Linked DNA regions of Homo sapiens. The protein of the gene in region 2 interacts with the protein of the main gene of each other region in a biochemical or structural test. Each region holds a gene or a part of one and is shown on either strand. Other genes may lie near its edges.

Region 1 (8,056 bases), on a different chromosome or scaffold from region 2:
CCTGCCTGGGCCCCAGCAGCACTCCCTCCCAGGCCCCCTCTGGTGGGCAAGGGGACAACGGCCGGAGTCTCCACCTGATGGTTTGGGCAAGTGTGCCTGGAGTCTCAGGAACTGAGAGCAGCCTCACCAGGGAGGGGCCTTTGTGCTCAGGAAAGAGAACAGGATTTGACTATGTAAATGGACTTGAGCGGGGGTTGGACATCAAAAGACAGGGCTACAGTTCAGTGCCACCCATGTGACTTAGGAGTGCACATTCTGCGCACACCCAGCAAACCCTGCATTTCCTCGAGAGAGGTCAGCCCCGTCACCTACCACTGGGCAGGAAAGCTTTGATCTCACCTCAGCAGCTTGGAAAGCCCTGCTTGACAGGGAGCCTGGGCTCCATCTCGGGGCACAGACAGTTGCAGTGGGAAGACTCCAGCAGGTGGCTGCCTGGTTTGGGTCCAACTCTGCCGTCTTTCAGCCAGGGGCTCTTCTAAGTAGAGCCTATGTTGTCCCCACCTGGTCCCCACTCAAATCCCCCGGCAGAGTTGGCCCTGCTCCGGGGGGAGTCTGTGGGTGCCTCCAGGGGACGTTGGGTACATCGTGGGTGGGAGACATTAAGAGCTGTCAGGCTCATGCCCTCTCCTGCCACGCAGGGGCCAGCACACCTGGCAGGGCCTTATGCTGCAAAGAAGAGATGCCTTGGGAATGGGGTCAGTCAATGCAAGGGTCCATGGGTTGGCCGAGCCGGCATCCCCTTGTGCAATCTGCACAGGCAAAGCTGATCAAAGGCCCAATGTCAGTATATAGGCTGCCCTCTCTGCAGGAGCAGCTGGGGCCCGGGATCAGGCCTAGAGTGGCCGGCTCAGCTGTCTGCCATCCAGCCTGGAGTTGCGCAGGAGGGCGGCGTTCCCAGCCAACCACTCCAGAGAGAGGGGGCTTCCCTCATGGGGGAGGCGAAGGCACGTGGCTGCCTTTGGCTCAGAACCCAGTGCCTGGTCTGGCCACAGCTGACAGTGTGGTTTTGGTTTCCCTCCACATGTGGCCTTCCACAGGCCACCCAGGCACCATGGCAGGGTCTTGCTTACCCCTTCCCAGGGGCAGTGTAGACAGTGCACCGGACAGACCTGGCTTCACCAGCAGAAGGTTGTTACCAACCTGCTCCGCCTAATAACAGCAGGCAACTTCCAAAGAGCTCTGTGCCAGGCACCATTCTAGGCTTATATTGACTCATTTGATGTCCACGAAGACCTTCAAAGGAGGTCTTATTATCTCCACTTTACAGATGGGGAAACCGAGGTGCAGAGCGGTTTATGGAACAGGCCTAGTTTACAGGACTAACAAATAAAAGGGCCAGGATTGCATGCATGATCTTCCTGGAAGCGAGAAACAGAGACCATAAGGTGGCCTGTGTGGGGCGGGGCAGAGCCTGGAGAGGGAACTTCTCGTGATGGAGCCGCAGAGAAGGGACTTGGGAGGGCGAAACTCCTAATCTCAGAGAGTCCAACAGAGTTGGAAAGCTGTGGTGTGAGCGGGTGGCTAAGTCTCCCTTTCGAAGCTTCAGTAAAATAGACACTGTTAATTGTTTTTGTGCAAATGCAATAAGGCACTATTTTTCATATCTGATATTGACAGTCAGTGGGAAAAAATGCTGGCCCAGGTCGTAGCCAGAGCTACTGACATCTGGCTCACACCAGAAAGCCGGCCAAGGGGCTTTATCCAAGGCTGACTGTGCCGGGTTTTCTCTCTGCATGCAAGACCAGGAAGGGGTATGTGCCCTGGAAGGCCTATGTATTTCACTCACTAACTGTATCTTCCATGTGAAGTGACGCAGAGCAAGCATGTTAAAATGGAGTCTCCAGGTTTTCTGTGCCTACGCTCAGCCCCCGTGAAAAGTCCTTTCGGGTCCAGAGATTAGGCTCCAGCTTTGATGCTTTGCATGTTTGTCTACCTGGTAGGTTAAATTCATAAATTCATGAACACAATCAGCACTTCTTGGGTTTTTTTTTTTTTTTTTTTTGACAGAGTCTTGCTCTGTCGCCAAGGCTGGAGTGCAGTGGTGCAATCTTGGTTCACTGCAACCTCCGCCTCCCAGGATTAAGCAATTCTCCTACTTCAGCCCTCCAAGCAGCTGGGATTACAGGTGCCTGCCACCACACCGGGCTAATTTTTTTTTTGTGTTATCCTCAGGTGATCTGGCCTCTTTAGCCTCCCAAAGTGCTGAGATTACAGGCATGAACCACTGCACCCAGCCTTTTTCTTTCTTTCTTTCCTTCTTTCTTTCTTTCTTTCTTTCTTTCTTTCTTTCTTTCTTTCTTTCTTTCTTTCTTTCTTTCTTTCTTTCTTTTTTTTTTTTTGAGACAGAGTCTCGCTCTGTCGCCCAGGCTAAAGTGCCATAGCATGATCTTGGCTCACTGCAACCTCCACCTCCAGGATTCAAGCAATTCTTCTGCCTCAGCCTCCTGAGTAGCTGGGATTACAGGTACCCACCACCATACCTGGCTAATTTTTGTATTTTTAGTAGCGATGGGGTTTCACCATGTTGGCTAGGCTGGTCTCAAACTCCTGACCTCGTGATCCACCTGCCTCGGCCTCCCAAAGTGCTGGGATTACAGGTGTGAGCCACCGCACCTGGCCTTTTTTTAAAATTATTATTATTTTATTTTTTATTTTTGAGACACGGTCTTTCGCTGTTGCCCAGGTTGGAGTGCAGTGGCACAATCACAGCTCACTGCAGCCTTGCTTGATCAAGCGATCCTCCTGCCTCAGTTTCCCGAGTAGCTGGTATTCCAGGTGCAAGTCACCAAGCCTGGCTAATCTTTTTTATGTAGAGACAGGGTTTTGCTATGTTGCCCAGGCTGGCCCCCAACTCCTGGAGTCAGGTGGTTCTCCCACCTTGGCCTCCCGAAGTGCTGGCATTACAAGTGTGAGCCGCTGCACGCAGCCTCACATCAGCACCTCTCAATCAATTGGTGCCATCTCCCTGCACATGAACCCTTGCGTCATGATGACATGTGGTCCTCACAGCCAGGCATTTCTCCCCACCCCAGACATAGAGTGAGAGGAGCTCTGCTCTTCCCTCAATAATTCGTGCCATGCTGTGCACTCCTGAGGAGCAAGGCTCTGTGGTCTGCTGGCTCTGCTGGGCTGCATTTGCAAAATGCTAACCTTCCTGTGTCAACCCAGCATCTTCACAGGTGGAATGAGGATGACAAGGCCAAAGCCCACTCGTTGGGTTATTTTTTCAAATTGAGGTATAATTCATATTCCATACAGTCACCCTTTCTATGGTGTACAATTCTTAATTTTCTTTTTTTCCAAGACAGTCTTGCTCTGTTGCCCAGGCTGGAGTGCAGTGGCATGATCTCGGCGCACTGCAACCTCTGTCTCCCGGGTTGAAGTGATTCTCCTGCCTCAGGCTCCTGAGTAGCTGGGATTACAGGCGCATGCCACCATGCCCGGCTAATTTTTTTTTTTCTTTTTGAGACAGAGTCTCATCTCACCCCTGTTGCCCAGGCTGGAATGCAATGGTGTGTTCTTGGCTCACTGTAACCTCCGCTTCCTGAATTCAAGCAATCCTCTGCCTCAGCTTCCCAAATAGCTGGGATTACAGGTGCCTCCCATCACACCCAGCTAATTTTTGTATTTTTAGTAGAGACGAGGTTTCACCATGTTGGCTAGGCTGGTCCCGAACTCCTGACCTCAGGTGATCTGCCCGCCTAGGCCTCCCAAAGTGCTGGGATTACAGGCGTGAGCCACTGCACCTGGCCCTGGTATACAATTCTTTATCGTGCTTTTAGTGCATTCACAATGTTGTGAAACCAACACCACTGTCTGATTCCAGGACATTCTCAATACCTCGAAAAGAAAAGAAACCCTGTACCCACAGCAGTCACTCCCTATTCCCTCTCCACCCAAACCCTGGCAGCAACTAAATGACTTTTTGTCTATGGATTTATCTTTTCCGGATGTTTCATAACTGGAAACATACAACATGTGGACTTTGGGGCCAGCTTCTTTCACTGAGCACAATGCTGTCAAGCTTCATCTGTGTTGTGGCATGAATCACTCCTCTCCAGGGCTGACTAATGAGCCACTGTATTGAAAGAACCACATTTTGTTTATCCATTCATCAGTTGACAGGCATTTGGGTTGTTTCCACTTTTGGGCTATAATGAATAATGCTGTGATGAACATTCATATACAAGGTTTTGTGCAAACATATATTTTCAATATTCTTGGGTCTATATCTAGGAGCAGAATTGCTGGGTCATTTAAGTCTAACACTTTGAGGAACAGCTAAACTGTTTTCCTTGGTGGATCCACCATTTTGCATTCCTACTAGCAACATCTGAGGGTTCCAATGTCTCCACTTCCCTACCAGCACTTGTTATTATCTTTTTTATTATAGCCATCCTAGTGGGTGTGAAGTGATGTCTTATTGTGGTTTTAATTTGCATTTCTCTAATGGCTAATGATGCCAAACGTCTTTTCTCATGGTTAATGGCCATTTGTATTTGGAGAAAAGTCAATTCAGATCCTTTGTACATTTAGAAAACAGGGTTGTTTGTCTTTTCCTTGTTTCCTTGGGTTATCAAGAGGACAAAATGGAAAGATGTGAGTGACATTTACAGCCCAAGTCCAGGCATGTGGTAAGCACCCACCGAATGCTTTGCACACATAAAAATCATGCTGGTGCTGGGCAAGGTGGCTCATGCCTGTAATCCCAGCACTTTGGGAGGCCGAGGTGGGTGGATCACCTGAGGTCGGGAGTTCAAGACCAGCATGACCAACATGGAGAAACCCCATCTTTACTAAAAATACAAAATTAGCCTGCGATGGTGGCATATGCCTGTAATCCCAGCTACTCGAGAGGCTGAGGCAGCAGAATTGCTTGAACTTGGGAGGCAGAGGTTGTGGTGAGCCGAGATGGCACCCTTGCACTCCAGCCTGGGCAACAAGAGTGAAACTCTGTCTCAAAAAAAAAAAAAAAAATCATGCTGGTGATCAGGTGTGGTGGCTCACACCTGTAATCCCAGTACTTTGGGAGGCTGAGGCAAGAGGATCATGAGGTCAGGAGTTTGAGACCAGCCTGGCCAACACAGTGAAACCCTGTCTCTACTAAAAATACGAAAAATTTAGCTGGGCATGGTGGCGGGTGCCTGTAATCCCAGCTACTTGGGAGGCTGAGGCAGGAGAATTGCTTGAACCCAGGAGGTGGAGGTTGCAGTGAGCCGAGATCGTGCCATTGCACTCCAGCCTGGGCGACAGAGCTAGAATCCGTCTAAAAAAAAAAATCGTGCTGGCAATTAGTCTTTATGAGCTAAAAGTGACTAGTGACATCTCAGAAGCAGAGGAGTACAGGACCCATCTGTGAAGAACATTCCATACAGAGGAGAGAAGAGAATGGGGGCAGAGGATTGCTTAGGAAACTTCCTGGAGGCCTCTGGGGGATGCTGAGTTGTCACTTGAGGCCTCCTTGGAGGAAGCACTCAGAGAGATGGAAGCAGGAAGAGGACTGAGTGATGCCCCTGTGACGGAGGCTGCTGGGGACAGGGCTGGGAGCCTGGAAGCCAGCAGGAGGAAGGGATGGGGGCACAGAGGCACACAGAGTGAAACCAGGGGCAATGAACATGACATCAGGAAGAAAGGCAGGCATCTGAAGACCACTGGGCTCCAATTGAGGGGGTGGGTGCAGAGGGTACTGAAGTCCTGGGGCTGAGGACGATGGAAGGAGCACAGCATGTTCCATGACGGGGGTACTCAGGCTTGACAGGTGCGGCAGCACGTGGGGACCAGATTCTCTCCCCTGCTCACTTCAGGCTCCTGTTGTCCCCTTTCATTAGGAAAACACGATATTAACAAGTGCAGGCCCCTAACAGTTTGGGTTCAATACTTACTGTAAACAACCCCACGGAGGGCTGTCCCCGAGAGATCATTTGGGACCTCCCCGGAGCAGAGAGGCTTGCTGGACCACACAGCTGTCAGTGGCAATGGAGAAACAAATAGATCTGATAAACAGCAATGTCCTGTTCTTTAGAGTCACTTTAAAAAATGGTATTTATACAAAGCACAGAAAGTACAAAGCAAAAAGCAGAAAAGTAACCACCCCATCACTGAGACACTAGAATAACCATTGTTAATTCACTGGTGTATCTTCTTCTTCTCTCTACCTCCCTGTATGTATGTAATTTCCATTTTGTATATACATGTATTACATGTATATGTATAATTTTAGTCTGAGATTTCTAGCAGCATTAGCATTTTCCCATTTAGTTAGAATTTCTTCCTAAATATCATATTTTAATTTTAGTCTGAGATTTCTAGCAGCATTAGCATTTTCCCATTTAGTTAGGTTTTCTTCCTAATGATCATATTTAATGGATGTACAGGATTCTATTACATGATGTGCGACACTTCATGAAATGATTCTTCTATTATCAGATATTTAAGTTATCAACAGCATTTTGTTGTTATAAATATGACTGATGAAGGTCTTTTGCAGAAATGTTATAAACATGTCTGGTTATAGATTCCGAGGAGTGGAATTACTAGATCGAGGGACAGGAATGTTTTTAAGGCTCTTGATACAGAATGATACATTGCTTTCCAGAAATTTTTTTCCATATATGCACCAGTAAGCTGTACAAGAGAGTGCCCGCCTCATTCTAACCTTCCTATTCTGAATATTTTCATTTCAAAACACAATACATTGCAAGGTGAAGGTGGTGAATGTTCATTTTGATTTGCATTTGATTGTGGTCACGTTGAGCTTATTTGATAGAGTTATTGACCCTCATAATCCCTCTTTCGTGAATGGTCTGTTCAATTCTCTTTGCCATTTTTCTATCGAAGCTATAGTTTTTCTGTTATCTACTTGCACAAGTTTATATCACACTTGTTGCAAATATTTTCATTGTGATTTTCCTTTAAGTTTTATGATTTTTTTTTGACATTCAGGGACTGTAAATTTTTATATAGTGAAGTCTCTCAGTCTTTTCCTTTTTTCTCCCTTCGCTTTTCAATGCAGAGAATCCCTCTGCACACAGAAATTCACTTGTTTCTTCTTGTACAAGGCAGGTGGGTTATGACAGAGACTTTGGAGCTAATAGACTTGGGCTAAGGATTCAGCAGGTTTTTTTTTTTTTTTCGAGATGGTGTCTCTGTCTGTCACCCAGGCTGGAGTGCAATGGTGTGATCTTGGCTCACTGCAAACTTCTGCCTCCCCAGTTCAAGTGATTCTTCTGCCTCAGTCTCCCGAGTAGCTGGGATTACAGGCTCCCGCCACCATGCCCAGCTAATTTTTGTATTTTTTAGTAGAGACGGGGTCTCACCATATTGGCCAGGCTGCTTTCAAACTCCTGACCTTGTGGTCCGCTCGCCTCGGCCTCCCAAAGTGCTGGGATTACAGGCGTGAGCCACCGCGCCCGGCCAGGATCCAGCAGTTTATTTAATTCCACTGGGCCCTGGTTCCCCTTTCGAAAACCAGTGCTAAGAATACCTATGTGGTAATGTTGTGGGGCAGATTGGATGGAAAATATGTATCATGTTTTTAGCACAGTACTTGGTAAAAACAAATGAAGCAGTTATGGGTTTTTTACTTTTGTTTTTGTTTGTTTGTTTTACATTGAACCATTTAATCTCTCTGGAATTAATTTAACAAATGATGCAGGATACAGATTTAGGCTGGGCACAGTGGCTCACACCTGTAATTGCAGCACTTTGGGAGGCCGAGGCGGCCGGATCACCAGAGGTCAGGAGATCAAGACCATCCTGGCTAACATAGTGAAATCCTGTCTCTACTAAAGATACAAAAAAAATAAAAATAAAAATTAGCTTGCCGTGGTGGTGTGTGCCTATAGTTCCAGCTACCTGGGAGGCTGAGGTGGGAGAATTGTTAGAACCCAGGAGGCAGAGGTTGCAGTGAGCCAAGATTGTGCCTCTCTACACTCCAGCTTGGGCCACAGAGTGAGTCTCTGCCTCAAAAAAAGGAAAAAAAAAAAGATTTATGTGTATTTTTCTCAGCTAATCATCTTTCCCAAAACCTCTTACTGAATAACATTCCTTTACCCTT
Region 2 (9,350 bases):
AAGCTCTGTGCTAAGGACTGGGGATACAGAGATGAAAGGAAGTGTCTGCAACCGTGTTGCTTACAGTCTAGTGGGAAAGAAAATTTATGTCAATAAAAAATAAAGTAATGCAGGTGGTTTTACTTTCTGGTTGGGTACAGTGTGTTGGGCATGAGGCTTTCTGGTTTGAATACTGCCTCTGCTGCTTGCTAGTTGTGTGACCTAGGCAAACTACCTGCCAATCAATGAGAGTTAGGAGTTCTCCTTTATAATTTATTTCCTTGAAGATGGTTTTTGCACATAAAAATTTATTCATAGGCCATATTGCTTTTAAGAACTCATATTCAATTTATTAAATAAATAAATTTAAAACCTAAGTCAGCCTTAAGTTCAGTTCAGCTTACAAATCTTACTGTTCTGCTTACAAATTAGGCAAATTTTAACTACCCTTCTTGAGGACTATTAATAAGATTTAACTCATGGCCAGGCATGGTGGCTCACACCTGGAATCCTAGCACTTTGGGAGGCCGAGGCAAGTGGATCACTTCGAGCTCAGGAGTTCGAGACCAGCCTGAGCAACATGGCGAAACCCCATCTCTACAAGAAATACAAAAATGAGCCGGGCATGGTGGCTCATGACTGTGGTCCCAGCTACTCAGGAGGCTGAGGCTGGAGGATCGCTTGAGCAGGGAAGTAAAGGTTGTAGTGAGCCGAGATCGTACCACTGCACTTCAGCCTTGGTCACAGAGCAACATCCTGTCTCAAAAGTAAAATAATAATAATAATAATAATTTGACTCATTTTACAAATTTATAAGTTGATTCCCTTATTATTCTAACTTATAAATGTAATATATTTAGTTTTGTTTTAAAGTATTTTAATCAGCAAATAAACTTCCCAAATACTTAAAGGCTTGTAAACCTAATACATTAAACTTCTAAGTGTGGTCATTCTTAAGTTGTCTTAAATTATTCAATTCTTCATGTAAATTAAGATTTCCAACTAAAATCACAAATGCACAAATGTAAATCAATTGCATAGTTTAAATCAGAAACACAAATATCTCAGTTCATTCTGGCTGCTATAACAAAAATATCTTAAACTGGGCAATTTATAAGTAGTGGAAATTTATTTCTTATGGTTCTGCAAGCTGGGAAGTCCAAGATCAAGGTGCCAGCAGACTCTCGGTCTGGTTAGGGCTCACTCTGTGCTTCCAAGGTGGGGCCTTGTTGCTGCATCCTCCAGAGGAGATGAACACTGTCTTCACATGGCAGAATAGTGGAAGGGCAAGAAAGGGCCAGATAACTCTTTGAAGTCTCTTTTATAAGGGCATTAATCCCATATATGAAAGCAGAGTGCTCATGACTTAATCATTTCCCAAAAGGCCCCACCTCTCAATACTATCGCTTTGGGGTTTAAGTTCCAACATATAGGACAGGCACAGTGGCTCACACCTGTAATCCCAGCACTTTGGGAGGCCGAGGCAGGTGGATTACCTGTGGTTGGGAGTTCGAGACCAGCCTGGCCAACATAGTGAAACCCTGTCTCTACTAAAAATACAAAATTAGTCAGGTGTGGTGGCACGTGCCTGTAGTCCCAGCTACTCGGGAGTCTGAGGCAGGAGAATCACTTGAACCCAAGAGGCAAAGGTTGCAGTGAGCTGAGATTGCACCACTACACTCCAACCTGGGTGATAGAGTGAGACTCCATCTCATTAAAAAAAAAAAAGTTTCCAACATATGAATTTTGGAGGGACAAATACATTCAAACCGTGGCAACAAAGTTTACTACAATTTTAATGAACTAAATTTCCTCAAACAATACATATACTTAAAAAATACTAACTGATTACCTTGAACATGTCTATTTTGTATTCCTTATTTTCCCAGGATTGAAAGATTCATAACCACAAAAGAAACAATTATGTCATCCCATTTACAGCCATTTCCTGGGGTACCTTCTCAATTAGCTAAAGTTGCTTAATGACCAGAAATATCACTGACATGTTAACTAATGGTATTACCAGCACCCCTTTTTTTTTGAGGTGGAGTTTCGCTCTTGTTGCCCAGGCTGCAGTGCAATGGCACAATCTCGGCTCACCGCAACCTCCGCCTCCCAGGTTCAAGCGATTCTCCTTCCTCAGCCTCCCCAGTAGCTGGGATTACAGGCGCGTGCCACCACACCCGGCTAATTTTGTTTTTTTGTTTTTTGTTTTTTTTTTTTAGTAGAGACGGGGTTTCACCATGTTAGCCAGGATGGTCTCGATCTCCTGACATCGTGATCCGCCCGCCTCCGCCTCCCAATAATTTTGTATTTTTAATAGAGACAGGGTTTCTCCATATTGGTCAGGCTGGTCCTGAGCTCCTGACCTCACGTGATCTGCCCACCTCGGCCTCCCAAAGTGCTGAGATTACAGGCGTGAGCCAATGTGCCCAGCTGGCAGCACCACTTTTTGCTTGTTTTGTTGCTACCCTCTAAAAGGCTGGTCTCATAGCCTATATCCCTAGATTCCACTTGAACACTGTGACATTCCCTAATTCTTCCCTCTACTGTGGCTGCAGCAGTTGATTTGATGTTGAATTTCTTTAGCTCCTAACATATATTTGTCTTTCCATCTAAGTGTAAAAAGCTTTGAGCTTGTCAAAATTCTACAGTCTTTCATATTCTTCCAATCTGTAGTAGCATATATATACTGCAAGTCAAGACAACATTAGAAATAAAGTCCAAAAAATGCAATTGTGTAAAATGCAGGGTCGTCTTAATTGCACAGTGAATGAAGTGTTGGTTGGGGGCTGGTGGTGAAGCAACACAGCTGAGTATGTGGTTGTGGCTGCCAGACCCAAATCTCAACCCAGGCTGGAGTCTGATGCTACCTGGAGGCAATGCCCAGTTGACAGGGGTGATTCTGGGCCTGTAGCTGGCGGGACTCCAAGGACAGTAGCAGGGATTTCAAAAATTTTCCAGTCAGTCACACCCACTTGCTGGGGTGGTTGAAGTATACTGAGAAGGACAACACTGGAGACGCCGGGGCCAGCATCACTGGATGTTGCTCCCTGATTCCCAATGCTAGTGCCTTTGCCTCCCTGTCCTGATGAGAATATTAGCCCTCCCCATGTGAGGACAGGGCACACTTAACAAATGCATCATACCAAAATTTATATTAATTTAGGTTTTACTATACTTAAATGATAATACTTAAATTGGATTTTGTGTATTATAAGGCTGTGTCCTCCTATGGTCACAACTTCAAAGGAGGTCATTTCAGTGATGTTACTTTCCTAAATCTCAGTTTTCTCATCTCTAAAATGGGGATAATTGGAGTATCATCCAAATAGGGTCTATCTTAGGATTAAAGGAGAAAACATATGTAAAGTTCTAAACACAGAGGCTCACTCATAGTAATTACCCAATAAATGTTAGTAATGATTTTTATTATTACCAATCTCTCTGAATTCCCTTCTGCCTTTGCCCTCGCCTCCCATGCAGACTGTTCCTGCTCTCATGTTCTGTACCCAGACTCCTTCAATAGCTTCCGCACCTGTCTTCTCATCCCCAGGCTCATCCCTTCCACCCATTCTCCCTCCACTCTGCAGCTCCAGGAAGCTTCCTACTCCTACTGGATTCTTGTTGCCTTTAGCTTGGTAACAGGATGCTTTATCTGGGCTCTGGTAACCTCTCCTGACCGTATGTCCTGCAATCCCCTCTAGACAGCCCATGTTCTAGTCACAGGACCAAGGCTAGAGTGAAACAAGACACGCTCCTAGTGCACAAAATTTAAAGATTTTCGAGATTCTGTCACTTTCAATATTGTGCAACATCAGATCATGACCAGCCTCTAAAGATGCTTTCCATGGACATAAGCCTGTTATCTTAATGGTTTCTCTCTCTCTCTCCCTTCTTCCTTTGAACCCAGACTTCCTGGGTTCAAGTCCTTACTAACTATAAAACTTATAGTAAGCTATTTAACCCCTCTCCACCTCAGTTTTCTCATTTATAGAATGGGGATGATAAAAGATATCTCATAAAACTATTGTAAGATCAAATGAGTGAATATGTTAAAGTGTCAGAAGATGGACTAGCACTCTGTAAGCTTTCATCGAATATTAGCTAAAACTACACATTCTGCCAGCCTCAAGTTTTCCTGCCAAGTCCCCTTAATGTTACAGCCTAAGTAAACAAATGACCTGAAGCCCGAAACACAAACCATAGCATGGCCAGCTATTACGCTACTGACAAGAAGAAGGAGGAGAAAAAGACAGTTTCCCAAGTCAGGATATAGGGAATCATGCCATTCTCCAGCCTACCTTTTCAACTCAGTCACCTCTACGCTGTCACATACGATGTCCACCCCCATTGCAGTCTCCCTGATGCCTTTGTCCATATTAAAAGTCCTTCATTGCATGTGACAGAAAGCTAGCACAAACTGCCTTGAGCAAAATAGAAAATGTATTGGGTCACTGTATTAGTTATCTGTTGCTGTGTAACAAATTGCCCCAAACTTCACAGCTAAAAACAATAAGCATTTTTGATGAAAAATAAAAAATTGAAAAAAAATTTAAAAACCAAACATTTATTATCTCACAGTTTCTCTTGATAAGGAATCTGGGCATGGCTTAGCTGGGTGCCTCTGGCTTAAGGTACTCACACAACTAACATCACGGTGTCAGCCAGGGCTGCAGTCATTTCAAGGACCTCCTGGGGAGGATCCACTTCCAGTCTCACTCATGTGATTCTTGGCTAGCCTCAGTCCTCATGGACAGTTGGCCAGAGGAATCAGCTCCTCGCCGATTGTTGGCTGGGGGCCTCCCTCTGTTCTTTGTTTTGGAACCCTCTCCCTAAAGTATCTCACAAAACAATACCTGGCTCCCCTCAGTGTAAGGTAGGGAGACAGAGATAGTGGGAAAGACAGAGAGGGAGAGAGGGCAAGAGAAAGAGAGAGCGCATATGCACACACATGCTAACCCAAGATGGAAGTCACAGCTTTTTTGTAACCTAATCTCAGAAGTGACCCATCCCACATCTCTGCCACATTCTATTCACTTGAAGCAAGTCACTAAATCCAGGCCACACTAAAGAAGAGGTGATTACACAGAGGCATGAATGCCAGGAGGTACAGATCTTTAGCAGTCACCTTTAGGAGCCAAATTTAGAACCCAAGTCCCTTGATGTCAAAGCAAGTGATGCTCCACATCAGTCACAAATGAGGCCCTGAATAGACTTGGGACCTCTACCTGCCTGCGCAGATGGGAGGAGTCTGTGGTGTTTTGTATAAACAACCCTCCCTCTGAGACACACACACATACACATACACATGCACACACACACTCATATACACATGCAGAAGCTGTGACACGTGCGGAAGCTGTGGTAAGTGCATCCTCCTTCAGTCTCAGTTCTGAAAATAGATCATCATGGTGGCACCAAAGAGTCACACAGATGACTGGGCTCCTGGGCCTTTCTCCAGTAAGCCACAGAGGAGTCAGCTGCAAATATTCTCTTCTGTTCTACAGACCTCTCTCCTCTTCCTGCTCATGGGTAAGTCCACTTTATGGCCACCACTTCTTGCTACTGCGGTTCTTCTGAGGCCAGTTGCATTCCCTGCCTGGGAGATTCTTTTTTTTGTTTTTTGTTTTTTTTAACGGAGTCTCACTCTGTTGCCAGGCTGGAGTGAAGTGGCGCAATCTCGGCTCACTGCAACCTCCACCTCCTGGGTTCAAGCGATTCTCCTACCTCAGCCTCTTGAGTAGCTGGGATTACAGGTGCATGCCAACACACCCAGCTAATCTTTGTATTTTTAGTAGGGGCAGGGTTTCACTATGTTGGCCACGGTGGTCTCGATCTCTTGACCTCGTGATCTGCCCAGCTCAGCCACCTGAAGTGCTGGGATTACAGGCGTGAGCCCAGTTCTTGTTGGTAAAATCGGGAAACTCATCTCCTTGCCAGAAATTACTTTGCATGTGTGCATATTCGTGCACTATGAAGGGGGTAACATTCTAGCCCCGGTCTCAAATAGCTCTGGGCTCAAACTACATTTCTCTTGCCCTCACATTTTCCTAAGAAATGCCAAGTATATAATGAGTTTGTTCCCTGTATGGTGTGGATAAAACCCACAGAGGGATCCAGGAAAATCCCCTGATGAGAAGCCACCTAGCAATTTCCTAGGGATGGAGAGAACTTCTGGAGCTTCTTTCTATGTATCCTGCCTTGGTTATCATATATGCTGGCTTTATTACTGAGGTTTCACTGGGGACCTGGACGCGGTTAGGTGACCATGGGCAAGGTGGCGTTTATCTGGATATCCTTTTCTCCTCAACCTTATTCCTCCCTATCAAGGCCCAACTCCTGGGAAACATCTCTCCGCTGCATGGCCCGGAACCCCACTGTCCAGCAGATAGAGCCAATCCAGTACCCCAGAGAGGATCTCAGCCACCTGGGACTGTGGCAGCTACTGTCCTTCTGTGCTCCCGCTTTCTCCAGGGCTTCAGGGATGATGGTGCAGGTAGCACTAGAGATCTGAGAGCAGTGGGGGTTGGCAGTTGGTGCCTGAAGGGAGCTTTAGAAACACTCCTAGATGCAGATATGGGTGAACGAGGAGCCTAGACCTCAGAGCTGAGGTCCAGTCTGACCTCTTTTCACTTTCAATTTTATCTTGGCTCATCAAAACACACAGAAAGCAGCAAGGCTGTTTATGTTTACCTCCAACCTTTGGGGTGTTCCTTGATTGTGTTGAGCAAACCTGAAATAAGCTACATTCAAGGTCATCCAAGCCGCAAATGATCAATGCAGTGAATTTCAAACAGTTCAGAGCAAAGAGGCATCTCCATTGGTCTGGCTCCACTGATTAGGATGACCTCAAATCTCACTCTTTTGGTCTGAAAGGATGATGCTTTTGTATCTCCAAAGAGTCATTTCAGGAACTTAAAAGGCAGTCGAGTGAAAAGACCCCTCTCACTTTAGTATCAGGAACATCTGAAATTAAATCATTGCTCCATCATTTATTAGTGATGAGGGCCTCTATTTCTTAAGTGTAAAATATAGTTAGTAGGATGCATCATGCAACACTCTTACAGATTGTAGATGATCTATACACACACACACACACACACACACACACGTATAGTGGCACATAGTTGGCAGAAGCTATGATTGTTATTATTATAATTACTGTTACGTGCATTCTTTGGAAACTATTAAGAGACAGGTGAGTCAAATTCAGTTTTGCAATCTTTGAATGCTCTTTTATTATTTGTCCTACGGTGCAATTCAAAATAAAATGACTGGTACTGGGGACCTGTCATTGTACTGGGAGCTGCATTGCACTGTCTTCTGCAACAAGATTTGCCCTGTGAGGCCCACATCCTGCCCCCTCCACTGAGAGTCTGTGAGGCTTTTGTTTATGGTTTTTGTCTGATGTAAGAAAATTTGAAGTCAAAACGAGTCATATGCACCCAGTCAAGACCCAGCAGCTCCTGGGCTTCCAGGATACAGATGGGCAGTACTCCTGGCCTCCCTACTCCAGGGGCATCATGGACATAGGATCTGGACTCTGTGACTGATCAACCCTGTAATCTCAGGGAAGTGGATTAAATTCTCTAAATTTCAGCTCCTCATCTGTAAAAAGGGGCTAATTATAGTATAGTTATGAGAATTAAATGAGATAATTTACATAAAGTACCTAATGCACACATAGCAATCGTAAGCAGTCTCTTCCAGATGGGAAGAGCTCTCTTTTAGAAAACCTCAAACCAACCTCACATCAACTCAGCCTGAATCTGCCTAAAGAATCCACCTGACCCAACCTTCTCATGTCCAGGATCCCTAGCCCTGCATGCTCCATAGCTGCCTCTCCACAAGGTGCAAGTGCTTGGCTGATGGAGGTCTAAGCAGAGAACCCCCATGACCTGCACCAAGCAGCCTCTCTCCTTCCAGTGTCTGCATATTCTGTATCCTCTGGGTTTTCAGAGCTTGCTTCAGCTTTCTTCCGCCCCTCCAGGCTATGCTTATGCTCCTTTTTTGTCTCTAACATTTTCTACTTATTTTCCCACCCAGAATTCCTGGTGGAGTCTGGGTCCCAAACCCATCTGTTTTGGTCTAGAATTTCAAAAGTGCTCTCCAGAGCCTCGGAAGCCCTGGAATCTGGGAATCCAAGCTAGGGTCACCCAGAAGACACCCACAGGGTCCCTACAAGAAAATTAACTGCCTTGGCCAAATACCAGCTTCCTAGATGCCTTGGTAACAATGTTTATCAGGAATATGATCTTGCCTAAGATGAGGAAATCAGGAACTGTATTAGTACCACCAGCTATTCCCACCCCCAAACCTGGCCAAACCAAAGTCAATCTGAGATGCCATGGACAATAAGGGTGAGGTAGAGGTAGGAGAAGCTCCTTTAGTTCCCGACACTGCTATGAGAGTTCTCAAACATTCAGAAAAGTTGGAGCATTTACCCTGAACATTCATAGGCCTACTACCTAGATTCTAACACAAACGTTTTACTTTGCTTGCTTTATCACTCGCCTGCCCATCTAACCATCCCTCTACCCACCCATATTTTTAAAAATATGCTCCTTTTTACTTCATTGGCTCTTCACAATTTGCAGCAACCTGCTTTCATTTCATTTTTACCATATCCCTTGAAGAAAATGGTGCAGGTATGAGCATTTCAATCTTTTAGATAAGATTCACTGAAAAATTCAGAAATGTACCCAAAGTCACAAGGCTAATTCCTCTACTGGAACAGAAACCCAGAAGATCTGTTTCACAGATTGTTGTGGCTGCTTTTAAGGGAGACAGTGTTTGGGGAATGGAGGAATTAATGACTGTGCTAGGCAATTGACCTAGAAGAAGGAGGACAAGAATCTCATTTCATTTCTCAGCATCTGACATTTATGCCCAATGTATATTCACAGAGTGAAAGAAAGAAGGCTAGCTCAAGGAGTCTAGCTGCTCCTCCAAGTCCCTCTTCTATCTCTGCAGGACTAAGAGCCTCTGGAAAGGACTCAGCCCCAACAGTGGTGTCAGGGATCCTAGGGGGTTCCGTGACTCTCCCCCTAAACATCTCAGTAGACACAGAGATTGAGAACGTCATCTGGATTGGTCCCAAAAATGCTCTTGCTTTCGCACGTCCCAAAGAAAATGTAACCATTATGGTCAAAAGCTACCTGGGCCGACTAGACATCACCAAGTGGAGTTACTCCCTGTGCATCAGCAATCTGACTCTGAATGATGCAGGATCCTACAAAGCCCAGATAAACCAAAGGAATTTTGAAGTCACCACTGAGGAGGAATTCACCCTGTTCGTCTATGGTGAGTTCCAGAGAGCTTCTGTGTTTTGATCTTTTCTTTTTTTTATTTGTGCAAATTTATGGGGT
Region 3 (4,154 bases), on a different chromosome or scaffold from region 2:
TGAAAAACAGTGGGAGTTGAACAATGAGAACACATAGACACAGGGAGGGGAACATCACACACTGGGGCCTGTCAGGCGGTGGGCGGCAAGGGGAGGGAGAGCATTGGGACAAATACCTAATGCGTGCAGAGCTTAAAACTTAGATGACGGGTTGATGGTGCAGCAAACCACCATGGCACATGTAACCTATGTAACAAATCTGCACATTCAGCGCATGCATCCCAGAACTTAAAGTAAAATAAAAATTAAAAAATAAATAAATAAAATGTTTAAATGGCCCACCAGGTGACTAAAAAAAGAAAAAGAAAAAAAAATCAGTTCTTATGCATTCCTGCTTTTACTCTCTCTGTCCAATACTGAATGTGATACGTAGTATAGCCTTTTGTCATCTTGTGAGAAAACAGTTCTATTTCTGCGTGTATGTGTGCAACCAAGATGTATATATATATCTCAATTCCATATATGTTAATGGACTCTATCCAGTTAGTCAGCCTTATTATATCTTGCTACATTAAAAAAAAAATCTTCATTTAAGAACTAAATGACCTAATGATAAGAATTCAGCCTTTTACTACAAGTTTGGCCAATCACCCCAAATTAGGAAAATGTCCAAACTGGGTAGTTTAACTTCCCCCCTAGTTGCAAACTACAAAATAGTGGTATCCCATTTACTGCAAGAGAAAACATAGGTGTCAAAGTTGAATGTATAGCATCCTAACAGGAAGACCAGGCATCCTATAACCTTGAAATGCTCAAGGGCAAATCTGGGTTTTACTAGTAGTAGACTTTGGATTCTAAGCTTAACGAAGTGAATCAAATAAAACATAAGCTGATGTTGAAACATTATTAACAGAGTTTAAAGCTGTTTCTCACATTTTTAATTCTGTGTCCATTCTACCCGAAAGAATATCTTAAATCCAGCCCTTTATTTATAGCAGAGGACTTAATCAGAGGCATTCTCTATAGACTTATTCTACCTGTGCACTACCACAAAGGTTCCCTGCCTGTAACAGCCAAACAGACAATTACCTAAGCTTGTCTCCCTACTGACCTTATCTCTTAAGAACAAATTTCAGAGGAAATGAATAAGTATTTGATAAGCTGTCATGTTCCTTTTGGGCTTGCTGACACACTTTTTTTTTTTCTGAAGAGAGCTGCACACTTGGAAATATATTGTGCATTTTTCTACCTTGACTCAGCATCTTACAATATGTTAGCATGGCAATATTTTAGATACAGCAAGGATATGACCTTTCTGTAAAGGTGCAAGTGATTACGTACTGGAAAATAGCAAGGATGCTCATGTTGGGAAAGAAAAGGTGAAAAAAAAAAAAAAAAACTTGATGAATAAAAGGCCAGCCAAAGAAGACAGGAAGTAGGCTCATCAACCGGGAACTTGGACAGCAATAAAATCAGAAAAGCACTTACCTTTTCCAGGGAATCACTCCGATAAGATAATCATCAATCCTTTATTTGGTTTATTAATAGCATCAGTCTCTGAATATTTTATAAGGAATTATAAGGAATATTTCAAGACAAATTAGGTAAATAAAGCTTTCAAACACTTTATTTAAATGTGAAAGACTTGATGATTCAAAAAAAGCTTTTTTTCAAAAAAAGGCTCTTGGAAGTGAACATGCAAACATAATTCATATGTTTAGGATTATTCCAGAATGAACACATTATAGAGTTAAAATTAGTTACGCCTATTACAATTTAAACTCAAGCCATATAATTAAAAATTATTAAACCTATGCAACTTATTATGAAAGTAGGATTTTTAAATTCCTTTACAAGTTCATGTGATGCTTTTACCTCAAGAAATGGTAAACCACCCATAATGCATTACTCAGGCCACACTCCACTTTTGTACTCCCACGGCATCCATATTAAATGCTCAGAAATCAGGTCTTGCCAGTACATGGAGAATAGCTCTGTCTCTCAGCAGTTCACTAATTAAAACCAAGTTCACCAACACCCATACACAATCCAGAATTCCCAGTTATTATTTTACAGTGAAGCTTAGCCTTTTCATATGGCCCATGGACCAGAGTATTTGCACTGACCTATCTATCTGCCTCTAAAGACCAGATCTACCTACACACGGGGAACCTCGCTTATCATGTACTTATCAACTTTCATTGTTATTTTTTCCTTGTCTTTTATTGTTATTTTCTTTCACTGTCTTTTATCGTTATTTTCTTTCACTGTCTTTTATCGTTATTGTTTTCTCGTCCAACAAGACAGTGAACTGAGAGCAGGGACCAGGTGTTTTTACTTCTATGCCCTCAGCGCCCTATTATGTTTGTTGAGTGAATGAATTCTGTGAGCCCTGTAGCAAAGTGACATATAATCAATCACAAAATCACAAAAATATAAATGTGAGAAGAAAATGCCGCATAAAATTCTGTATCTCGTGTAGGTTTCAATCACTTGGAATTTTTTTAAAAAATAATACAACCATAAACTTTCCAGTGGTTTTGTAGGGTTACTTTAAAAGGAGGCTTGTTACAAATCAGTTACTCATGAGCTGCAGCTGCTGAAATTTCCCTTCAAAATGAGGTCTTCCATGTAGTAGAAACAACTGGGGCAGAGGTAAATGAAAAGAAAAACTCATTTCATTGGATTTGTAATACAATTTCAAATCCTGTAGCATCAAATACGATAAACATGTTTAGAGCATATTTTAAATTATAAGATTTTCAACTCCAGGTTGGTCTGTGGATTTTACTGTCCAATATCAGAACACTAGGCAAGAAGGTTGCTTTCAGAATTAAACATAAATCCTTCACTCTTTGTTTAGTGCTTGTTTTAGCACACAGTATACAGCTTCAAAAATCCCAAAAGAGCCTATGACACCATAGCTAGTGGAGAACTTGGCAAAGACAAGGGACACCAGCCAACTTCCCACCATACAATCAAGCAAGACATTTTAAAATTAGTAGCTATAAAATAATATTTCACTAAAAATGGAGCTTTTCACAAAAACTGAGGATTATTTTTATTTATATTTGGCAAGAATTGACATTAATCCTTTATAAAGTATTCATTATCCTTTTGTTTCCCATTTGTAAATATAATAACTGAAAATAACCTACGGAATTACTTTTTCCCAATCCTCGTTTCAAAGCTCCTCACTATGTACAAAAGTCCATTTCAGCTTTGACGACATGCTAGATGCTTCCATTACAGGACTACAATGGCTTTAGAAATGCATTTGTAGCTCACCGAACTGTATTATCTACAATATATAAGACTTAGCATATATTTAAATTATAGAAAATAAAGTACAAGGTGTTTTATTTTTCTTCATGGGGCTTTCAGGCAGACATCAGGATCTTCTCTTATCCCTAAAGAAAAATAACAAAAATCAAGAAAAAATAAACTTACAAACTATTAAAATTACAGATTAACTCAAACTTATAAAATTTCCAACTGCATAAAACTCACAATGACACAACACAGTAATATACCTCAAGCAACTATTATTTAAAACTGAGTTATAAAGAATGGAATATTAGGCAGAAAAAAACAACTAGCCAACTTGGAAATTAGAGCTCTATTTGCATTTGTATTATAAAGGCTAACTATTCATTAATTTAATTCACCACTTGAGTCTAATTGTCAGTTTATGCCTGAGCCTAGGTCCCTGTCAAAAAGGGACTCGTTTTCTTTTATCATAAATATTTATTGTTTCAATCAAGGCCTATCCTCTTACTCCAAACAAATGATAAACCCCATTCAATAGAGGAGTAAACAGTCACGTATCAGATAGCTACAGACATTGGCTGGTATTCAGTCTTTAGCACGACACATACACTAAAATAGGTTTGCTCAGGATATGTAACAATATGTGCCAGTGGAACAATAAAGTGCACTATTTAATTTCCTTTGCTTCAGAAAAATGTCATTAATTCAAGCACCACCAATTCAGAAATCAGAATCATGTGTGCCAGGCTAACGTTAGCTTTCATGTCCCTGAAGGAAAAAACAGTTTACTAAGCAAAGATAAAGGACAGCCCAGGTGTTCTCTGAATTATACCATCTTTCACATTATTTGTGTCTGAATTAGTGAAGTGAAATCATACTTAGCTACCTATTAAAGGGACAGGAAAGAACAAGATGAGACAGACAAGAGCAGTTAAAATGTTATG

The links. The genes of interacting proteins can lie anywhere in the genome.
Region 1: the proteins of LY9 (region 2) and INPP5D interact in a biophysical measurement, tested with the Homo sapiens proteins (one study listed by IntAct).
Region 3: the proteins of LY9 (region 2) and SH2D1A interact in a biophysical measurement, tested with the Homo sapiens proteins (one study listed by IntAct).

What each region holds. Positions count from the first base shown.
Region 1 is NC_000002.12:233,063,326-233,071,381, forward strand, and holds part of INPP5D (phosphatidylinositol 3,4,5-trisphosphate 5-phosphatase 1), read left to right. Parts: intron 1-8,056. UniProt on the Homo sapiens protein: Phosphatidylinositol (PtdIns) phosphatase that specifically hydrolyzes the 5-phosphate of phosphatidylinositol-3,4,5-trisphosphate (PtdIns(3,4,5)P3) to produce PtdIns(3,4)P2, thereby negatively regulating the PI3K (phosphoinositide 3-kinase) pathways.
Region 2 is NC_000001.11:160,790,798-160,800,147, forward strand, and holds the start of LY9 (T-lymphocyte surface antigen Ly-9 isoform a precursor), read left to right. Parts: upstream 1-5,376; 5' UTR 5,377-5,390; coding exon 5,391-5,514; intron 5,515-6,312; coding exon of another isoform or gene 6,313-6,478; intron 6,479-8,888; coding exon of another isoform or gene 8,889-8,955; coding exon 8,956-9,285; intron 9,286-9,350. UniProt on the Homo sapiens protein: Self-ligand receptor of the signaling lymphocytic activation molecule (SLAM) family.
Region 3 is NC_000023.11:124,370,547-124,374,700, reverse strand, and holds the end of SH2D1A (SH2 domain-containing protein 1A), read right to left. Parts: intron 3,351-4,154; coding exon 3,310-3,350; 3' UTR 1,541-3,309; downstream 1-1,540.